Homo sapiens: one gene and its partner. The protein of the gene in region 1 purifies or fractionates together with the protein of each later gene. This does not show direct contact. Each region holds a gene or a part of one and is shown on either strand. Other genes may lie near its edges.

The links.
Region 2: the proteins of AAK1 (region 1) and WNK1 purify together in Homo sapiens (affinity purification with mass spectrometry; 2 studies listed by BioGRID and IntAct, with this or other methods). This does not show direct contact.

What each region holds. Positions count from the first base shown.
Region 1 is NC_000002.12:69,640,599-69,652,312, forward strand, and holds the start of AAK1 (AP2-associated protein kinase 1), read right to left. Parts: upstream 3,142-11,714; 5' UTR 2,977-3,141; intron 2,677-2,976; 5' UTR 2,443-2,676; coding exon 2,280-2,442; intron 1-2,279.
Region 2 is NC_000012.12:878,899-890,538, reverse strand, and holds part of WNK1 (serine/threonine-protein kinase WNK1), read right to left. Parts: intron 10,967-11,640; coding exon 10,508-10,966; intron 9,819-10,507; coding exon 9,540-9,818; intron 8,848-9,539; coding exon 8,750-8,847; intron 8,629-8,749; coding exon 8,466-8,628; intron 7,597-8,465; coding exon 7,480-7,596; intron 7,145-7,479; coding exon 6,971-7,144; intron 6,766-6,970; coding exon 6,708-6,765; intron 6,419-6,707; coding exon 6,296-6,418; intron 5,891-6,295; coding exon 4,455-5,890; intron 3,319-4,454; coding exon 3,235-3,318; intron 1,400-3,234; coding exon 1,316-1,399; intron 87-1,315; coding exon 26-86; intron 1-25. UniProt on the Homo sapiens protein: Serine/threonine-protein kinase component of the WNK1-SPAK/OSR1 kinase cascade, which acts as a key regulator of blood pressure and regulatory volume increase by promoting ion influx.

The DNA of each region.
Region 1 (11,714 bases):
GGTAGGTGCTACATAAATACTTTGTATACTGGCTCCTACATATCTACATACTTCTAAGAGCCACAAATTCAAACTCAACTTAAGCCAAAGAACACAAAAAGGGCGCATAGCCAGACCCAGTTTTACGTGACATTCTCTCTCGCTACTCTGTCTTTGCCCATGGTGCCACCACACTAACTCCTACTCACTCTTCAGTCACTTCCTTCAGAAATCCTGGGCTCCCTAAAACTGGGGGCCACTGCACCCTAAGTTTATCTCTATGATGGCATTTACCAATCCACTATAACTGGCTATTTTCCATCTCTTAAAGCAGTTGGTAAAAGCTAGCATCTAGTTTAACAGTATACCCCCAGAGCCTAGCACAGCACCTGGCACTTCACAGGCAACTCCATAAACTGTTGAATGAATAAATGCAGAGCTACAAGTCCTAAATTCTGTGTAAAAATATCACAATACGTGATGCGCAGTTCTCAAAGATGAATCCCAGAGAAGAGGAAGGCAGCCTAGGTAACAAAGACCAATTTTGCCTTTTCTTTTCCCTATCACTTCTCTCACACTTGGAGAACATGCACCGCTTAGGGCAGCATCATCCGTGATGAGACAACATCCTAGCTGAACAAAACGCTCGTGGGCTATAAGGTCAGCAGAGGCCATTCAGAGGGGAGGAAAGTGTTCTGTGGCCCTTCGTTTCTCCTGATTTCTCTCTGACACACTCTCCTTTTCACTGTTTCTCCACCCCACTGCAGTTAAGGGCTTTGGCACAGGGATGAAAGAGACAGATCAGACTCAAGGGTGCGGATCTGGCAGCGGGCACAGAAGCATCTCCTAGCCTGCACCAAAGTCCACGGGAAAGATCCAAGGGGACAGTGACTCTGGCCCCAGATAAAGCGCAGCTAGAACAGTACTGAGATTGGAAGAGCAATAATTTCACATGGACATTAACTGTCAGAGATCTTTTTTAAAAATCATGTTTTTAAAGTACAGACTTCAACTCTATTCCCAGAAAACTGGGCCCTGCTGAATCCAGTGCTTACACAAGCTGAGAGCCAAACACAGCTTCTTCCTCTTCCAAACCCACCCACCAGCCCGCAACATCCACCATGGTAAGCATTTCCCAGGCCCAGGTCAGGACCCTTGCTTCAACTTTAGCTTGCAAAAGGCCCCTTTTTAAAGAGGCCTCTTAGCTTTCTCTCTTCCCTTGCTAATAAAACTGTTCCCTACCATCACCATGTTGCAGTAAGAGAGACCTCTCCCTTCTTCCAACCCCTCTCGGTCTATAACACAACCTACAGCAGGTTGGCCCCATCCAATCAGTCTGAATTGCTTCATGCCAAGGAAATTGCTGCTTTTATTAAAAATAAAAGCACACTAGGCAGGCGAAGGGCTGTGAAAAGTATGAGTCTGGCATAATTATGAAGGTCGAGGTTAAGGTTACCAAAAGAGACATGCAAAGATTTCCCGAAAGCCTGGGGGAATCAAGATGTATATCTACGTGAGTATAGACACACAGATGAAACACAGAGGGAATTTATGCAGCAGATCTAAATAACATCCTCTCTGATAGCGAAAAAACAAAATCAGAGCCACTCTCAAGTAATTTTTCTTTTGATTAAAAAAACAAAAAACAAAACCTAAAGCGAGAAGGAAGAGGGGCCTACTAGACTGAGTTCAAAATAACCACATTTGTTTTATGTAATTTCTGTTATCTTTGCTATAACCTGGGGACCTGATTACAGTTGGGTCAGGAAACAAATCTACTAGTGAAATCCACCAAGAGCCTTGGCCCTTGGAAAAACACGTTCACGTTCTCCGAAAATCCTCTCTTCCTTCCAATGCCTGCTCATGGAAGTGGGAAAGTTGGGTAGGAGAAGGAGAAACCCCTCTCTTCTTAAAAGTCCCCCCACCCTTCAGCCTTCACATCAAGATTTTAAGTTTTAGGAGGATGACAAGCCCATCACCCTGCCTTTGGCATAAAGCTTTACACTTTCACACATACGTTTTCTTGTGTGATCCTCAAAATTTGGCTTCTCAATATTAAAAAAATAAAAATAAAAGGCCACTAACGTAAACAATTTCGGCAACCTCCCCACACCCCCATAAGCCCAGTCACTTTCAAATCTCAATTTTAAATCTCTCAAGGACAATGACTCACAGGGCAAGTGAAGGGGGAAGGGAGGGTCAACTGGTCAAAGCCCATTCATACATGCAACAACTAGAAACCACAGTATTGCCGCATCAGCACAAGATTTTAATTTACGGCGCATTGAGCCCCACCGTACCTTCCGCCAACACCTCGTCCACTGTGACCTGCTGTCGCCCGATGCCGAAGACTCTTCCGATGTAGCCACTGCCCAGGCCCGAGGTGCTGCCCCCTCCTCCGCTGGAGCCGGAGCCCAGGCCAGAGCCGCCCTGCTCTCGCCGGGAGTCGAAAAACTTCTTCATCTTGCGAATAGGGAGCAGCAAAGCAAAATACCGATGGTTTCTAGATTTTTTTTTTTTTTTTTTTTTTTTAAGAAAAGAGATCCAAGGATTTCTTCTCAGATTTCACCTCGGAGAGGAGCCACCCGAATCCGGCCGTGGGGGTGGGGGCTGAGGGAGGATGCCTATAGGAATATGCGTGTCAATCGCGCAGCGGGTCCCCTCCTCCTCCAGAAAGCGATTCGTGTAAGTTTAAACCTGTGATGACAGAGGAAGAAAGAGAGGATGAATCAGTAACACGCTTAAAAATTCAACCGCTGAGTCCTAGGGGGAGCAAAAGCCATCATCCTGGGGAAACGCTTCATGTATTTTCCCGGCGAGAAAAACCGTGGGGCTGAAAACGCGACCCCGGCCCCAGAACCCGGGACCCCCGAGCCGGGAGCTCGGAGAAAGGAGGGATCCGAGCTGCTCCGGCAGCGCCGACCCTCCCGGGCACTGCCTCCCGCTCCTCCCGGGTCTCCCCGCCGCCCCTCGAGGCGGCATCCTGGCAGCACCCACTTGAGACGGCTCGGCGGCCGGCGCCCTGCTACCAGCCCCGCGACATTGTCACGGCCGCCGGGCCGGCCTGCGACGCAGAGAAGAGGCGGCGCTGCAGCGAGAGCCGGGGCCGCGCTCGGCTCCCGCCCGCCCGCCAGCTGATCCCGGGAGCGCCGGGCGGAGACTGACCCGCCGCCCCTCCCCCGCGCGCGCTCCCGCCCGGCTCCATCCACCCAACCAGGAAGTGAACCGCCGCCGGAAGTGCCCCTCGGGGCGGCGCGGCGAGGGACCGGGGCCTCTCCTGCAACCGCCGTTCTGTCGCCACGGATGGGAAGGAGTCGACCGCGAGAAGAGGACTGGGGGAAGAGGGTCTCAGTGCAGACAGAGTTCTGGAAAAGACTGTTGATATCACCCGAGCCGCAGGGCAAGCTGGGAAAGGTAGCTCGGCACAGTCCGGCTGCTGGACTACAAATCCCAGCATACTCCTGGAGGAGAGGGCGAGGCGGCAGCCGTGTGGCCTCCACGGCCTCGAAGGAGATTTGTGGGGTGGCGCGTATGTGGGGACTCGGCAATTTAAACACATCCCGTGAAGAAACTGCCAACAACTAAGTTCCCCCCCCCCCCCCCCCGCTGTATGTTCCACCCTTCTGGAGCCATCTTATTTGCGGCCTGGCCTCCTGGCACAAGGGATTCTGGAGGTTGTGGTTTCCGAACGGATCGAGACTGACACCTGAAGGACGCGGCTTAACCGCTTAGCCCCTAGCGGGTCCTGTGGGTTTCCCGACGTCTCCTGGGCTGAAATGGAAGCGAGAAGTGATCGGGAACATTGTGCTGGCAGTTGGATCCGGCTGCACCGAGCGCCAGCCTTGAAATAAGTAAAACCGATGCCCTTCCGCCCCTAACCTCAAAAGCTGCTTTTGCGTCTCGATGTTATTGAGAGCCGGCTCTGCGGTCAGCTCTGAGCTAGGCGCTGTGAGAACGCTCAGTAAGACAGTGTCTCGTCTGGAAATGTACAGGCGAGATTCAAACCGAGAAACTGCCAAAGGTTGTGTGCAGGGCAGATCCTAGGATACCGGAGACCCAGCCCGTTGGCTTGACCTCAAAACTCGGGGGCTTTTCGGCCCATGCTGTCCCTTAATTCCTCCTCCTTTGCTGACGCTGTGGGTGCGCATCAAAGCCTAAACTTCACTAGCTCCCTTGCACACAAGAACACTAACCCTAACCTGACCAGTTATTTATTTTTCACTTCAAGATTCTTCCATTGATACTTACGTTTCCCTGATACCGTCCAAGTGCTGAGGGCGGGGATGGACTGTGTGATTTGCATCTGCCAAATGCAGAAAATTTGGAAGGTCAGTTGGTACACTTTTCCGACCTAGATTTCCTGATGGATGATGCTGAAGAGTGGCAAGTTGCTGCCAAAAACAAACAAAAAAACCTACCATGATTTATTAATATTATTTTTCTAACCCCTGAATATGGGTTATTGTTCATCTCTGCCCGCTTTCCCCACTCCCTAGTGCTTGTCTCAGAATTTTTTTTTCAGCGGGTATTTGAGTAGAGAAGGGTGTCCCAGGGAAAAAAATGGTTCTTGCTTTCTCTAATCTGAATATTGAGCTGAGCTGTGACTGGGTTAACAGTAGCGTTTGTTGTTGCTGCTGCTGCAGCTTGTTTCAAGTAGTGCCATTGTAATTAAACTCCGTGAAGAGATAGCATCTTTTCTTCCGGAGAGAGTCAGTGTTGTCACCTCAGTTCACGAATTCATGTAGCCACCTCCAGGGTGAAATGCAGCCCCTATTCCCTCAAACTAAGCCCACGAAGGCATGTTCTCTGCACTTTCCTTAAAAGGCCAGATTTTTGTCTGAGGAAGTTTGAAGCAGATCTTAAAATAGATGAGAAAGCTCATTTGGAATTAGACTCATTGACCCCCATTTCTCTCAGCACTTATTTGTCTTGACTGACTTTTTTAAACAAGCTGTGCTAGGTCCTAAAATCAATCTGATGCTATCTCAGTTTTTACCTTTCTAGACTTCTCTGGTACCAGACTAGTCCAGGCTTACACAAATCTCAAGTCTTACTTCAGTGATACAAAAACTCCCAATATGCTTAAGGTAGCTAACATGCATTTATTTAACACCCACGTGAATGCTCTGATCAGAAGCTGAGGGAAGAGGTTTAAAAAACAAAAAACATGACTAGATTCCTTGCCCTCCATTCCCTCACAGACTAATAGCAATTATAATGACAAATCCACAGTTTTTCATGCTTTACATATATTAAGTATATAATGCTCACAACCACCCTATGAAGTAAAGTACCATTATTATACTCATTTTATAGGTGGGTAAGTAAAGCAAAGAGATTAGTGACTTGCCCAAAGTCACACAGTAAATAGCAAAGCCAGGATTCAAACCCAAACATTTTAGTTTCAAAGCCCAGTTCTTACCTGGCTATACTAAACTGTCTACTTAGAGAGAGCAAACATTAACTGATTAAAAGACTCGTGAATAGTTAGAAACCCACGCACAAGCAGCATAGGACCAGGAGACAGGAAACCTCTTGCCACTTCATAGCTGGGATCCTAGACCACTTGTGTCACTGGGCTTATTATCTCAGCTATAAAACCAGAGCTCTTACAACTCTTAGTAATTTTTTAGTTCCTGAGTACAAAATAATGAACAGATCAGCCACTATAATCTCAAAACTATCACACTTTCTGTATAATTTGTCCCATGCTGCTTTGCATTCCTGTTCAACTTTTAATGTATATTGCTGTCTCAACCAAACACCTCAAAGCCAGAGAACCATCTTCTACTTATCTCCTTGGGCATCCAGTATAATAGTTTACATAGAGTGTGTTCTTAGCAGTACTTAAAGTAAATAATTTACTTTAAATGTGACACAAAACAGAGCTATCTGATTAAGGTGGAAAGATTGATTTGAAGTATCCTAGATGAATTTTGAACTAGGTGTGGAAGATGCTATGGGTAAATAGTCAAAGGGAGTGGGAAAAGAAAGTGCCATTTACTATTGTTACAATAGTGATCATATGACCGATGGAACAGACTCTTTGAGGCAATAAGATGCCAAATTATAAACAAGACCTAAGGCTGTGTCAGGCAAGGGTTAAGTCACACATCCCTACACTTGAAGAGTAAACCATCTTCTAACTGCCACAAGGTTTTTCTTTTTCTCTGGTAGCTAAATAGACACTGGCCTGGAGATAAGCAATATTGAATCAATTGTAGCTCACTGACCACTAGATGCTGACTAACTGTATCCCCCCAACCCCTGTTCCACAAACCATAACTATTTCTTTGATTGGACAAGAGACTGATTTCAGTAACATCCTAGTAAGAGACTACCAACCACAGACTGGTTCTGGCTGGTTTTCAGAGGCTGTGCACTGAGTGTCTTCATGTCCTTTGCTTCACCTAATTGTAATGCATTTAAATGTTAAATCTCCACCCCAAAGAGAACATAGGACATATGTAACATGCATGTTTGCTCACTATGCATGCATGTGCTGCCCCCCGCTTTGTGAATAATCAAAGCTCCTGTAACTTAAGTGTGTATTCTTAGCCAACTCATTTGGCATAAATTTGTGTTCCACTTTTTCCTCCCTCTAAATACCTGCTTTCAGTCTCTGCCAGAGTCTACACTTCCCAGCCTGTCAGGATCACCAGCCTGCAGGCTGCAACCCTTTATAAAAAGTAAAGCTCCCCTCTCCAAATTTATAAACCTTGGGATTCTTCAGTTAACACTATGTATCTTCCATATGCCAGTTATGGAATTTAAAAAATATATATATATTGTTTTATTGTTTTATTTTTATTTTATTTATTTATTTATTTATTTATTTATTTATTTTTTGAGACAGAGTCTCACTCTGTAGCTCAAGTTGTAGTGCAGTGGCGTGATCTCGTCTCACTGCAACCTCTGCCTCCCAGGCTCCAGCGATTCTTGTGCCTCAGCCTCCCGAGTAGCGGGGACTACAGGTGTGTGCCACCATGCCTGGCTAATTTTTTGTATTTTAGTAGAGACAGGGTTTCACCATGTTGCCCAGGGTGGTCTTGAACTCCTGAGCTCAGGCCATCCACCCACCTTGGCCTCCCAAAATGCTGGGATTACAGGCATGAGCCACCACGCCCAGCCACTTTTTAAAAAAAATAATTATATAAAAAATAGAGATGGGGTCTTGCTTTGTTGCCCAGGCTGACCTCAAACTCCTGGACTCAGGTGATCCTCCCACCTCAGCCTCCCAAAGTGCTGAGATTACAGATGTGAGCCACCGTGCCTGACTGATATTATTTTATTTAATCTTCATGGTTGCCTACAAAGTAGACAGTATTATCTATTTTATCAAAGAAAATACTGTTACACTATTATTCCCAATTTTATAGATGAACAATGAAGATTTTGTTAGTAGCAGATGAACATGTATGGTTTGTTAAGTTTGAAGGAAATGATTTGACCTGTGGTACACCTAAATCATGTTACCATAAACCCAGTGTGCTGTATCTTTGAGGAAATCAAAGGAAAGGGGACCACCATTAATTAAAATCCTTAACTGAGTCAAGCACTATGTTGGGTATTTAATCATACCATTTAACCCTCACAATACATCTATGAAGTGTGCATTACTTTTATTGGTGTGGAAACAGAGGCTGAGCAGGATTAGAGTCTGTCAACTATTTCTACAAAACATCTTAAAAAGGGCAGAGCCAAGACTGACCTCAAAACCCACATCATTTTCATTACACCATATGGGCTTTCTATGTTGCCGTCTTTTAGCGAAGTGGAACTTGTTAGAAATGCAAATTTTGGGGCCCCATCCAGACCTACTGAGTAAGAGGGAGGGGCAGAGGCAGCAGTTTCTGTTCACAAACCTTTCAGGTAATTCTAATACACATTCAAGTTTGAGAACCACTGTTTAGCAGAAGCGAACTTGTAAGAACCATGTCCTTTTTAAAAAAATGACAGTTCTTGCCCAGGCATGCTGGCTCATGCCCGTAATCCCAACACTTTGGGAGGCCGAGGCAGGTGGATCACTTGAGGTCAGGACTTCAAGACCAGCCTGGCCAACATGGTGAAACCCCGTCTCTATTAAAAATACAAAAATTAGCCGGGCATGGTGGCATGCACCTGTAATACCAGCTCGGGAGGCTGAGGCATGAGAATCACTTTAACCCAGGAGGCGGAGCTTGCAGTGAGCCGAGAGTGCACCACTGCACTCCATCTGGGGAGACAGAGTAAGACTCAGTCTCAAAAAAAAAAAAAAAAAAAAAAGACGTTTCTTGATTTTTTTAATTTTTAATTTTCTTTCTTTCTTTTCTTTTTTTTTTTTTTTGAGATGGAGTTTTGCTCTGTTACCCAGGCTGGAGTGCAATGGCACAATCTTGGCTCACCGCAACCTCCGCCTCCCAGGTTCAAGCGATTCTCCTGCCTCAGCCTTCCTGAGTAGCAGGGATTACAGGCATGTGCCACCACGCCTAGCTAATTTTGCATTTTTAGTAGAGATGGGGTTTCTCCATGTTGGTCAGGCTGGTCTCGAGCTCTCAACCTCAGGTGATCTGCCCACCTCAGCCTCCCAAAGTGCTGGGATTACAGGTGTGAGCCACCGCGCCCAGCCTAATTTTCTCTTTTAAACTGAGCCTTGTCTTCTTATTTTCCAGTTGATTTTGGTTTTGGATTTTGTTTAAGAAAGTAATTATGTGCTCATTGAAGAAAGTAGATAGAAGAAAATAAAAATCAGCTATAATTCTACCACTCAGCGATAATTGCTATTGACATTTTGATCAATTTCCTTTTAGCATGTTTCCATATATAAGTACCTTTTTTACTATATTAGATCACATTATATATTTATATTTTATTTTTTTCATTCCATAGTTTCCTATTTCATTGTATATTCTCTAAAAATATTCTTTTAGTAGTTGCTTAGTAATCAGTGCTTTACTGTCAAATGTTTTATTTTTAAATGTTACTTTTTATATGATTAGAATGAATATTCTCTTGTATTCTCTTGTGTGCTTCTTTGATTTTCTTTCTTTTTTTTTTTTTTTTTTTTTTTTTTAAGACAGTGTCTCGCCCTACCGCCCAGGCTGGAGTGCAGTGGCACAACCTCAGCTCACTGCAGCCTCGACCTCCTGGGCTCAAGCAATCCTCTCACCTTAGCCTTCTGAGTAGCTGGAACTACAGGCTCACACCACCACGTCTGGCTTTTTATTTTTTTATTTTTTTATTTTTGTAGAGACAGGGTTTCACCATGTTGCCGAGGCTGGTCTTGGACTCCTGAACTCAAGCAATCCACCCGCATCAGCCTCCCAAACTGCTGGGATTAAAGGTGTGAGCCACTGTGCCTGGCCTGATTTTTTTTTTTTTTTTTTTTTTTTTTTTTGAGACGGAGTCTCACTCTGTCTTCCATGCCGGAGTGTAATGGCACAATCTCGGCTGACTGCAGCCACCACCTCCCGGGTTCAAGAGATTCTCCCACCTCAGCCTCTTGAATAGCTGGGATTACAAGCACCCGCCATCATGCCCGGCTAATTTTTGTATTTTTTGTAGACACAGGGTTTCACCATGTTGGCCAGGCTGGTCTTGAACTCCTGACCTCAGGTGATCCACTCACCTCAGCCTCCCAAAGTGCTGGGATTACAGGCATGAGCCACCGTGCTTGGCCCCATGATTTTCTTTCTAAGGCTACGTTGTTATAAATGGAATAATTAGGTCAAAAGGTATGAATGTTTTTACAGCTAGAGAGCCAAAGTACCCTCCAGGAGATTGATATTGATTTGTTCTCCATTCACTGATCCAGTAAACAAATATTTATTAAGCACCATGTGCTAGACTTTAGAAAGTTTATTACAATAAACAAAATAGTTACACTCCTTGCCTTCAAGGAGCTTTTGGTGGTTTTTGTATCCTTTTTTTTTTCTTTGAGACAGGGTCTTGCTCTGTCACCCAGGCTGGAGTGCAGTGGCATGATCATAACCTGAGGCTTTCAAGGGATCCACCCACCTCAGCTTCCTGTATAACTGGTGCACAGCACCACAGCCAGCTAATTATTTCTTAATTTTTTGTAGAGACAGGGTGTTTCTATGTTGCCTAGTCTGATCTTGAACTCCTGGCCTCAAGCAATCCTCCTCCCTCGGCCTCCCAAAGGCTTGGGATTACAGGCATAGCCACTGTGCCCAGCTAGAGCTTTTGATCTTAAAAGAAGGCATTAAATCCTAAGTATTTCCATACCCTTGCCAGCACTGAGTTTGTGCAGTTTAAAAAGAAATCGATTTCATTTTGTTAGGTAGGAATGGTGTTTTTTGTTGTCATTGTTTAAATTAGTGAGGCTGAACAATTTTTCTTGTTCATTTATTTATTCATCAGTTGTTTATTAAGAATCTGTTATATACCAAAACAATGCTAGGCACTGGAAATATGATAAAGAAGATGGACATGTGTTTTCCTTCACAGAGTTTATAATGTAGTAATTATTGGTTGTGTATATTTCTTCATTTCTAAATTGTATCCTCTTCCATTTTTCCATTGGAGCATTTATTTTTAAGAATTGATTTGAGAGTGTTCCTTTATTCAATCAGTATGTAGTGAACTACCATGTACTAAACAATATGGTGCAAAACAAACAGATGAGGAAAAGAACAGGTGAGGATGTTAGCCAGGCATGGTTCCATGTGCCTAGAGTCCTACCCACTTGGGAGAATGAGGCGAGAGGATTGCTTCAGCCCAGGAACTTGAGGTTGCAGTAAACTATGATCACACCACTGCACTCCACCCTAGGGGACAGAGCAAGACGTATTTTTGTTTTCTTAGAGATTTTCATTACCTTGTCTAGTTTCTTTTGATTCTTACTTGCCTTACTGCCAGCTCTTCCTTTTTACCTCAATCTGTATACTTCATATATTACCTGTTTTTTAGTATCCATTTGTCTTGTTGTTGTTGTTGTTGTTTTTGAGACAGAGTCTCGCTCTGTCGCCCAGGCTGGAGTGCAGTGGCGCAATCTCGGCTCACTGCAAGCTCCGCCTCCCGGGTTCACGCCATTCTCCTGCCTCGGCCTCCGGAGTAGCTGGGACTACAGGCTCCCACCACCACGCCCAGCTAATTTTTTGTATTTTTAGTAGAGACAGCGTTTCACCATGTTAGTCAAGATGGTCTCAATCTCCTGACGTCGTGATCCCCCCATCTCGGCCTCCCAAAGTGGTGGGATTACAGGCGTGAGCCACCGCGCCCGGCTTTTTTTTTTTTTTTTTGGGGGGGGGGGGCGGGGAGACAGAGTCTCACTCTGTTGACCAGGCTGGAGTGCAGTGGCGTGATCTCAGCTCATTCCAGCCTCAACTTCCTGGGTTCAAGCAATCCTGCCTCAGCCTCCAAAAGTGCTGGGATTACAGGCGTAAACCCCCATATTCTCGGCCTTTTTATTGAATTTTTATTGCAAACATAAAGTAGTTTTGTTTTTTGTTTTTTAGATGGAGTCTCACTCTATCACCCAGGCTAGAGGGCAGTGGCACAATCTCAGCTCCCTGCAACCTCTGCCTCCCAGGTTCAACAGATTCTCCTGCCTCAGCCTCCCAAGAAGCCGGGACTACAGGCCTATGCCCAGCTAATTTTCTGTATTTTTAGTAGAGACAGGGTTTTGCCATGTTGGCAAGCCTGGCCTCGAACTCCTCACCTCAAATGATCCACTCGCCTCAGACTCTCAAAGTGCTGGGATTACAGGCGTGAGCTACCACGCCCAGCCTCTTCCT
Region 2 (11,640 bases), on another chromosome or scaffold:
TAAAAGGAGGAAGGATGTTTCTCACCACCCTTCTGAGGCTGTGTTCCTGCTTCTGTGATTGCTGTTGGAGCCGCCATGGACACAGGCTGTAAAACACACACAGACAGACACCACAAATCTTTAGCTTCAGTCACTCAAACTTTTGCCTCGTTGCCTTTCCTATGGTCTTTGTAAAAGGGCAGAAAGACAGTATATGTGATGAAACACTTATGTCTGAGAACATTTTATCTTCTTTCCTTTTTCTTTTAAAGTCTAAAAGTCTGATGTAAAGAAAGGCACCTTTTAGGGCCAGGCATGGTGGCTCACACCTGTAATCCCAGCATTTTGGGAGGTCAAGGTGGGCAGATCATTTGAGGTCAGGAGTTCGAGACCGGCCTGGCCAACATGGCGAAACCCCGCCTCTAATAAAAACACAAAAATTAGCCGGGTGTGGTGGCGGGCACCTGTAATCCCAGCTACTCGGGAGGCTGAGGTAGAAGAATCACTTGAACCTGGGAGGTGATGGTTGCAGTGAGCCAAGATCGTGCCACTGCACTACAGCCTGGGTAACAGCGCAAGACTCCTGTCTCAAAAAAAAAAAAAAAAAAGGTACATTTTAAAAGAATGAATTTCTACTCTTAATTCTTGATTGCTTTCTTAATTTTTCTCATAGGATGCTTAAGGGTATAACTTGGATATTCACAGAAAAACAGTTTCAATCAAAACATTATTATTATTTTTGAGATGGAGTCTCGCTCTGTCACACAGGCTGGACTGCAGTGGTGCAATCTCGGCTCACTGCAAGCTCTGCCTCCTGGGTTTTACGCCATTGTCCTGCCTCAGCCTCCCGAGTAGCTGGGACTACAGGCGTGCACCACCACACCTGGATAATTTTTTGTATTTTTACTAGAGATGGGGTTTCACCGTGTTAGCCAGGACGGTCTCGATCTCCTGACCTTGTGATCCGCCCGCCTCGGCCTCCCAAAGTGCTGGGATTACAGGCGTGAGCCACTGCACCTAGCCCAAAACATTATTTTATCTGACAAAATTTAGCCTCCTCTGAAACAAAAATACGAAATCCATAGAATTGATCTATGGCACAATCTGACCAGACGTACAACTAAAAAAGCACCTTTCAAATAAAATCTTTTCCATAGTGATACTCCTGAGTCAGCATGAATCTTTCATTAATCAGTCTCATTTCTTTTGGCTAGAATAAGCAGGAACTCTGAATACATGTTAAAGGTATTAATAATGGTTTAGGTTACAGTTTGTGTCCCAGGCATATAATATATTAGGGTTATGAGGAGATTTTATCAAGATTTTCAAAACTTACACCAACCGCAGAAGTCACTGTGATCATCTCTGGACTAAGTGTTCTTCTCAATTGAGCATCAAGATCCTCTAGAGGTTGCTGGGACTGAATGAAAACAATCACAGTAAATACAGTTCCGTGGCACCTTCAGAGTCACGATATATAGCCAATTTAGATAGGACACACTGTTTTATGCTTTATATTGGCACAACATAACATTTGTCTTTATGGAACATACAAAACTATACTCAAATTTAGTGTACTGCTTTGATTATTTTGCCAGTTTCTCAAGATTGTATGTCAGACTCTCAAGGCTCAGAGTAGTTCATGTTTTTGCAGTTTAAGAGAAGTCTTATTACATTCTATGTTTGATGTTACTCAAAACGGTAGAAAGAGTTATTTATTTGTGCGACCTTTAAAATATATTGTGAAAAATGTACAAAGATCTACTGGTAGATTCACTGTATCTCATGTTCCCTCTTTTCTTTCTCAGTTTTATACATCTTTCTGGGAAGGTGCCCCTATGAATAAAAGATGGCATTAACATATTCTGTCACTATCACAGGGTATTATTTTCCTCTTTCTTACATGTATACTTCTTCCCTACAGATGGTGGCAAGGAGGTCTGGGTATTCCATCCTGTTAACCATTCCATCCACCGCAAGCACACAGCTTCCTTCTACCCTTCCACAGTCTAATCCTACATCTGTCTTGGCTTCTATCAATCTATTCTTGCACAGTCTTTGCTTAGGCCTTTCCCTCTATCTAGGCACTAGCTATTTACCCTTACCCCTCCACATGTCTCACTTGCTATTTTTTGTCACACTTTATACTCCCTTAGAAATCTGAATCCATGTTTTTAAATGAGAAAATAAGTTTAAAACTAATTTTCTAACTCCTGATTTACGGACTTTCACAATGCACTTTCCCCCAAATGTGGTGGCTGATGGAGTGCTTTCTCTGTTGGGGTTTTTACTTCATTGTGGCAAGTTCCTCAAATAGTGTTCCCCTGTACATTGGGACCAAAGAAATAGGGATAAATTCCAACTCAGCTTCTCAAGTAAGCAATTTACCATGTTTTTCTTATTTCTTATATATGATTCAAAAATAAATTCCTAATTTAGTTTAAAAGTTTACTGGCTTGTCTCATGTCAGAAGATTTTTCCTGGTCACAACAGATTCACAATTAGTACTTTTCTTATGGAAATTCAACAAATGTGTTGGCGGTGGACTGCGGTGGGAAAGAGAAATAATAAATATTACAGGTAATTCTGTCCACCACTGCACTCAAGTGAGCAGAACTGTGTGAGATGGGAATCTCAAGTTCATGAGGCTGGTCTCAGTTCCTCCATGAGTGATCTCATAATGTTAGCATCTCACTGAGCTCGGTGGCTTTTATTTTAAAAGAGACAGCACACATAGTTTTCATGAAACATCACCCCTATACCTACCTATAAGTAAGCTAATTCCTTCATTAGGTGGCTAGTGAAAGAAATGATCAACATTCAAGAAGAGACTGGTTGCTCTGGACTCGCGGAAAAAGTTTCTCAGTTGCCATATTGTGCTTCTCCTTTCTAGGGCACTCTCAAAGTTAATTTTGATTATATACGCAATTTCGCTATTCTACAGAAGTGTGAGTGATAAAGGGAGCTATATGGGTCTGACAAAATGTTTGCTTTGCTGTTTTCTTCCTTCATAAGATATAAAAAAAAAATTAGTATCAAGTGTTTTTGGATAACCGGAAGCAACATTACAAACAAAAGAGCTATGAAGCTTCTTACTTAAGTAGGAACTGGGTCATTGGTTATAACATTTTAAAAGAAAGGTGTTACTAAGTCAAAGACAAATAGGCAAAAGCCAAGACCACGTAGTGGAGAACTTCAGCAAGCTTTGTCAAAGAAAGTAGGGCACAGGAAGAAATTTGTCAAGTCTTGAGGCACCTGGGTTAGAGAAGGTCCTGGAAAAGGTGGCAGCTGCTCGCTGGGTAGAGTACCTGCTGGAAGTTCAGTACCCACTGGCAGCACCTACAGACAACAAAGGGAAAATCAAGTCCGTGAGACGCTAAATATAAAGACTGCGTACTGAAGAGCAAATCAACTAATTTGAATGCACAAACATAAGAATAAAATATATATAGTTAAGACATGTTTATCACTGAGGTTACTCTCTGGTATCTGTCTTAAAAAAACGGTGTGACAACTAATGTTGTTATTATAGGGGTTACTACGATATACCTATAAAATGAATAGTAAAATACAGTAAAAAGTTGTCCCCTAGGGAGAACAGAACAAAGGCTATATGTACATAAGTGGCAGTGTCCAGATATTCTTGAGCTACTTATTTGGTACAGTATGTATCAGACTTTCGCCATGTAAAACAAGATTTTCTGAGAAAAGAAAACAGTAACTGGTTAAGAAATAACCAATGGGCAGGTCTGATAACAAAAGGCATCAGAAATCTAATACTATTATCAAGAATTTCTATTTTATCTGAGTGAAGATTCTGCATTATCCTACTATAAAAAGAACCTCACATCAATGGCAATGCAGAAAGAGGCTGAAGCATACAATACAGTAGACGTAACACAGCCTTGTTATTTGGAGAAGGTGGCAGAACAAGAGGAAATCCACCACAGCATAATTAGATAATAAATTTTAGTTACTTCAGTCCTAGGATTAGATTATTTATTTCTCCTCTGTATCAATTTCCTTACTAACTTCCAATTTTTTATAACCCCCAAACTGTACAACTGTGGAATCTACAACAAAACCAAAAATTTGCTTCATTCTCACTGAAACAAAGACTATGAACTGCTATTATTTACGTACATTTTGCTGACAGATGCATTTAGCTCCCTTTTGGGATACAGACTTCTTCAGTTTGTACCAATTCAGAAGAAATACCTGTATTTTACCCGATAATTATACCATCTTGGAAAACTGTGCAGCATAATTAACCCTAAAATCCTGCCACACTTGAAAAAAAAATCTCATGTTCATTGTAGATATACCCTCAAACTGCTGTCAATTTAATAAATACTATAAGCCAGGTACCTTTATAAATATGTTTCTAACTTACAAGGCTGAAGTGAAAAATGTACTCATTAGGGAGAAAAAAAACTGATCATATTTATCTAATTATTTTATAACAATAATTTTACCGGAGCCTTAGTTAGAGGTGGCTTGGAGGGAGCAGTTCCAGGTTTCACTCCTGATGTAGTAGTGCTGACTGGGGTAGAAACTTGCCCAGGTGTGACCACTGGTGTAACTGGCAAAGCAACTGTTCCTAGTGGTAAATTGGTTGGTGGTAAGCAAGTACTTGTGGTAGAAGTCAGGAGTTTGCTTGGTGCAACAGCAGTAGTTGGGATGCCTGGTGTGACAGTGCTCTCTATGACTAGTGAGGTCTCCAGTGAGACAGAGGCATGCTGAGCTCCAGATGAGCTGTGTTCACTGAACAGAGACCGCAGCTTTTCTTCTAGAGTCTTTATGTCATCAATTCCAGGAGCTTTGGGTTGTGTATCAGAATCTACTTCAGGACAATGAGTATGGGGCTGGTTGGGAAGCAAAGCTGGTTGAGGCTGACTATGAATTAGTGTCTGCTGTACAGCAGGCACATTGGCAACAGGCTGTACCAAGGGTGGGATACTAGGTACTTGGGGTAATAAAGGTGTAGAAGTAGGTCCTGCTGCTTGGGGAAGAATAGGAGTAGAAGCTATCACTGATGGAATGACCAAAGGATGCAGCCCACCAGGCTGAGAAATATAACTAGACACTCCTGCTCCAGGAGAGGAAGAGGAAGATGGTGCAGAGAGGGAGAAAGCCAATCCAGTTGTACTGCTATGAGATGTCTTATCTAGTGAGTGTGCGCTAACTACCACGGTTTCAGCTAAAGTAGGAGTAGAAGTACTGCTGCTAAGCTGAATGCACAGCTGTGAAGCTGTGCTTGGGAATGAAGTGGTGGTAGAAACTGATGTTAATGTGGCTCCCACAGTAGTGCTGCCTGCTGCCTGCTGAGATACTACAGCTGGAGGCTTAGGACCTGGGGTAGCAGTACTGCCCCCTGCAGAGGCTGAAGTTGCTGAAACTGTTACTGAAGGATACAGTGCTGTACTAGAAACAACGATCTCAGATGTGGATGTGGGGACTTGAAGTGACGGGGATGTAGTAGATATTGAGACAACTGCAGGTATTGTGATACTTGAAACTACGCTGGAAAGTACTGGTGATTCAGACACAGGTGGTATGGGGAGACCACCTGAAGTTACCACACCTGTGCTGGTGGCAACTCCAGCAATCCCCTCTTCAGTGGGCACTGTAACCTCAGACTGAATTACTGATGTGGAAATGTCATTAGGAGGGCTGCTTGTTGCAGGGACTGGTGCTGTGGCTGCTGCTGTGGTTGGGACTCCAGCAATGCTACTTAAGAAAGGAGGTACTACTGGAAATGTTGGTCCTGTATGACTAAAGTTTGGAGGTGCTGTGTTGGGTCCTTCTGTCATTTGGGCACGTCTAAGTTCAGAAAAGGCCTGTTGTAGACTAAGGGATGATGCAGAGTGAGACAAGTTCATTCCAGGGCTCTGAGCTGTAGAGGCAGCAACTGCAAAGGAATACAAAAAGATAAGAATCAGCTGATTTTAAAAGGATGGATTCAAAAGATTGTCTGCTAGCCTAAGTCAGCTCCTATAAATATCTGTTTTTGATAAAAAATATGGAGTAATCTTAAAACATAGACAACAGTACTAAGTGCAGAAATAAACACATACTACAATATCTATTATACAGACTATATCTTGGTATGGCCGTGCTTCTTGGCTTTTTCTGTAATTCTCTGTATTCTTCATCTATTTCCCTCTCCCATATGTTTATCTGTTGGTTATAACTTCAGTTTTCTATTCTTTTTTATTATCTGTGTCATCATAAATTACTGCTTTATGATTAAGCTTTCAACATAGCAGAGGCACTGTAGAATTTACATAACAATGTGGCAGAATCAATCCCTTACCTGTATCTGTTATTTCACTGGGGAAAACTTTTGATTCTCGTAATCGGCTTTCTGGCACAGGACTCACTATAAACCGCCTTCCCGCAGAATGAACAACTTGAGTTAAAGAACTGGTAGGAATGCCTGGTCAAAAACAAACAAACAAACGTAACTTAATAGCATTATTATTATAAATATTGTTAGACTTCATTATTGGCACATACAACTGCTTTTTTTGAGGCACGGTCTCATTCTCTCACCCAGGCTGGAGTGCAGTGGCGCGATCTCAGCTCACTGCAACCTCCGCCTCCTGGGTTCAAGCGATTCTCGTGCCTCGGCCTCCTGAGTAGCTGGGACTACAGAAGCCTGCCACCACCCTCGGCTAATGGCTTCTTAAGTCAAAGGTAAAAACAAGGAAAGAAAATAAATTCACCTATTTGCTGTGGCATGGAAGACGCAGGAATTGGTTGTTTGAACTCTCCTTCCAATTTCTACAACAAACAAAAGTGATTAAATACATTCTCAAATGCAATCTCAATGACTAGGCAAAGCAAACTGCCACATGTGAAGAGAACATAAAAGTTTGTTGTCGGTCATGGGTGTCAGGTGATATCACTGGACATTTTGCATAGCAAATTTAGAACTATGAAAATATTTTAAATCAACAAAGTTTCACTATGGGAGTGGTGAACCTACCTGAGAACCTGAAAAGCCATAGTCATCCTTTCCTTGTAGACTCTCCAATCCCTGATCACCCTCTGGTTCCACACTGACATCCTCACTGAGCATTTCATCAGCTTTTTCAATAATTTCTCGCACTTGATCCACAAACGACTCTCTCTCTATTGCTAGAATAAAGTCATTGTTCACCTGTAAAAGAAATGTGATGTCAGTCTAATTAGTGTCATTTCTCAAACTTTATGTCACTTTTATGACTTCTGTCCTATCTGCATACTTACCTATATTTTTATTTATTTTGTACTCAAGTTAGCTCTTCTCTTTTTAAGAACTTCAATATCTAGTTAGACATAGCCTAGACAAAAACATCACTAAATCACAGGTTGGGTGTGATAGTTTTATTCACATTGAAGTAAATGCATAACTTTAAAAAAACATGGATTATAAAATATGGCATATTTGCCTAGAGCAATGGCTATTAAGATCAAGTACTAAGGAAAAACCTAGAACTCCAAATGCAGACGTACCATAATTGTTGCTATCTCCTCGGGGTTGTCACCATCTAGGTCAAATTTGAATGTAACCATTTTCCTATTATGAGTCTCTAATTGACATTCTACTACTCGGTCTCCTTTATTTGAAACCTAAAAAGAAAAAAGGTACATCATCTCCAAAGACCATATTCAGCTTTATTACTGAATTTCAGAAAAGCAATGCAGATTAGCACTTGACTTTATGTCTAAGGAAGCATAGTGTTATCGCTGTTCCTTGGAGCACTAGTACTTTGTCTCTTAAACTGGTAGCAAGAAAAATCTTTGAGAAGACGTTAGCCTTTGAGCTACTTACTAAAACTCTCTATTCTTTTTCTAAAAGATAAGTAGTGCTTTATCATAGAAATATGGAATGTAAGAATATCATTTGGCTAATTATAAGATCCTATACATTCATCAATTCATCTAAGCCTTAAGAAATATTTAAATGATATTAACTGCTGGCCCTATCATAGCTTTATGAACTACCTTTTCATTTTTCTAAAAATGTGATATTTAAGTCAAAGAGACTGTGGGCATGAAATGAGAAGAGTACTATATAAATTATCTGGCTGGGTGCCTGTAATCCCAGTGGTTTGGGAGGCTGAGGCAGGTGAGTCACCTGAGGTCAGGAGTTTGAAACCAGCCTGACCAATATGGTGAAACCCTGTCTCTACTAAAAATACAAAAACTAGCCGTGCGTGGTGGCACGTGTCTGTAGTCCCAGCTACTTGGGAGGCTGAGGCAGGAGAATCGCTTGAACCCAGGAGGCACTGCAATCACAGTGAGAAGAGATCATGCCACTGCACTCCAGCCTGGGCGACAGAGCGAGACTCCGTCTAAAAAAAAAAAAAATTATCTGTCACACACAGATAGTTATCTTTATTTTATGAAGTGAGTGGTTTGGATTTGATGACCTCTAAAATCTTTTTCAGTGTCAAATTCCTTTAACAACATGAAACTCACAAATTAGGAATACTTACATTCAAAATTCTTAATTTTGGGCGTGAAGTTTTTTCATGTCGAGAGCGACTCCTTACAGATTTTCGGTAATGCCGTTTTGTAGTTCTTCCTTCATGCCTTCCACTGGAAGATGGGACGTTCTCATTGCCATCACTCATACCTGAAGCAACATCTGAATGTGCACTTTGAAATTTAAAAAGAAAAAAAAGTGCAGTTTATAATATGAGATTTAAAGGTCTGACAGTTTGGCGTTTCATACCGTCTTATTTACCAGTCAAGGAAGGAGAATTCTAGTTTTACGTACCTGTCTACAGAGGAAGCCAAAGTGGTCGGCTGGGTAGCTTGGGTCTGTGCTACTGCAACTGGCTCTGCAGGAGCAACCTGAGAGACTCCCTGAGTACTCTGTGAATCGAAAAGATAACTCAAATCTCGGTAGTAATAGATTTATCATTCACTATCCCCAATAATCTACTTATTTTTTTCCTTATCCCTCCCCACTACGTCCTAGAAGCACTAAATTTACTAGTAAATTCTCAATATTCAGCATCTAGAGATAATGGTCTTAAAATTCCAAAGGAAGTTGCTAAAGCTAGTCTCTGGTATAGACTGCATGGTATGAGGTCAGCCAACATATCTGCTAGGCAGTGTGAACCTACAACTTGCCATGCAGCCAGCATCTTACCAAGAGTGTGCAATAGCGCAGACAGAGCATAGTACAAAGATGAATTCAGATCTTCTCCTAGCAGGGCAAAAATGATTGCTGAGAGCACAGGAGGGTAAGATACTCTTATGACTGCCAATGGAAAAAGTTTGTGAAAGGACAAGAATAATGGCTAAAGTACTAGCTAGAGAAGTGAAGTGCTAATAGGGTTCATCTTCTCCAAGGCACACTCACTTCCCAACAGAACAGCCAGTGGAAACAAGGACCCCACATTGGCATTTCATTCTGCTGTAAGAAAAAGTCATGCAGAAGTTAGTTTGACATGGTCTCCAAATAAGTTCTAAACCAGGGGAGCCTGTTTCTTTCTCCTTTATCATTGTTGTCCAATTACATATATACGTTTTACATATAAACATGCAGTAATTCTATTTACCTCCAAAACTGCTTGCTGGGAGGATGTAGTGGGGGCTTGTGCTAAACTCCCTCCTGGCTGGGACACTTGAACCTGTCCTCCTACACCACCCATAGGAACTAAAAGATTTGATTCCACATAAGGCTGCACCACTGTGGGAAAGTACCCAGGTGTAGCCAGTACTTCTGTCGGCATGGGAGGGGATAGGACTGTAGAATGGATGCAAACAGAAGCCACGTTGGAAGAGGGAGCAATATTTGAATCTCCTGGGTACTGTGGTGGCAGTCGAGGTGGGAAGCCCTGTGACAGAAATGAGGAAGGTGAGTTAGAGCAGGTTGGGGGTCAATAAATTAGCAAAACAGCAAGACATGCAAAAAAAAAAAAAAGAAGCACACAGCAAAGAAGAATAGTAGCCAATCTCTTTCTAATAATCTAAAGGGCATATAAAGACCACATTCTTGAAATGAAGTAGTAGACTGGTTCCAACAGAAGAGACAGGACTCTACAATACTACTTTATTGTCGGTTATCTTCACCTAGAGATGATTTAAATAGGAGGAACACAATTTCTTCCTAGCCAATCTTAAATGGAAAAATGCAAAAATTCTTCCACATAACAGTCATATCATGAAATGCTAATTTTCCCAGTCTAAACCCCGAAGCTTTTTGTTGATACCATGTTGGCTATTCTATTTATTCTACCCATATATGTAAAAGTTGCCAGGTGTACTATTAACCACATCTAGCATTCAATCAGCTTACAGTGAATACTGAGAGAACCATTTTTCTCTGAAGAAGTGTCTTGAGAAAAATGGATCAGGAATCACTGAACATCATTATCCAATCCTTTCTCAGAATTTTACTATTTTGCTTCTCTAGTTGACATGTTATTGCTAGTTATTCTGACACTCAACTATTAGATTTCCATGTTCCTGATGATCTACTAGGATCAAACTCTGTGGTGCCCTCTTTTGCTAACTAACACAATACCTGGTACAGAACATCTCCAGAGGAAAGTGGAACCTCAGCAGCTTGTCCAAGGTTAGCTGGTATTCCCATGGACTGAACTGCTGGTTGTAGGAGCTGTGGGTGAACCTGACTTGGCAGCTGAGTCACAGGCTGCAGAAGGGTTGGAAGCTGACTAGGAACCACAGTTGATACCCCCGGGATCGCAGCTGTTGTAGCAGATGAAGCCAACGTGAGCAGAGGCTGAGTAATGCCAGCTGCCATTGTGATGGGAAGGGATGAGAAACCTGTCTGAGCCGTAGACACATGAGGAGTTGATATGGGAATCTGAGAGACAGGGTACTGAGGGAGCAAGGGAGTAGGGAGCGGCTGTCCCACTGGAAGGAAATGAGCACCAGAGTGGACTGGAACAACCGAGGGTTGTGTCGCAACTGGGATCTGAGGTTCGCCTTGGATAGTTGGTACTGGCTGGGAAACTGGAAGCTGGGAAGGTAAAGAAAAACAAAACAGACAGGCTTAAAAAAAAAAAAAAAAAAAAAAAAGCAAGGCTGCCAAAAGCAAGATTTATGTATTAGCCAAAAAGAAGGAAAAAACAAACAAAAAAAAAAACACCAAACCAACAAAACCCTGCATACATTAGTGTTAAGTTAATATGCCACATAAGAATATGGAAAGGAGAGCAGGAGAGAAAGAGGCTAAATAGACTATTACTGTTCTACACCTTTTGTCATAGAAATATTTGCTAATGCTTCAGCATTTGGCAATAGAAGAGGACCCTTCCATAGACAAGGGGTTGGCTTTTTTTTTTAACAGCTTTATTGGAATATATTTTATATACCATAATGCTATCACTAAAGTTACGACTGCTGTTACAGTAGTTACTGAAATTCAAATGAATTCCTTCCCAGTGGAATTAAGATTTCATTCGTATTATTTCTAAAATTCTTAAGTCCAACATGGCTCAATAAAAATTGGTATAATTCACATATTTCACTCATTCTAGGATGCAATCATCCCTCTCCACTACCTGATCATTTTAACATGTGAGAAATTGGGATCTACTTTATAACTGATAATGTGGTACATAAAATATGGTACATTTTAAAGTTGATAGCATCTCAGATGTGATGAAATATTAGGGTAACAATACACTGTGC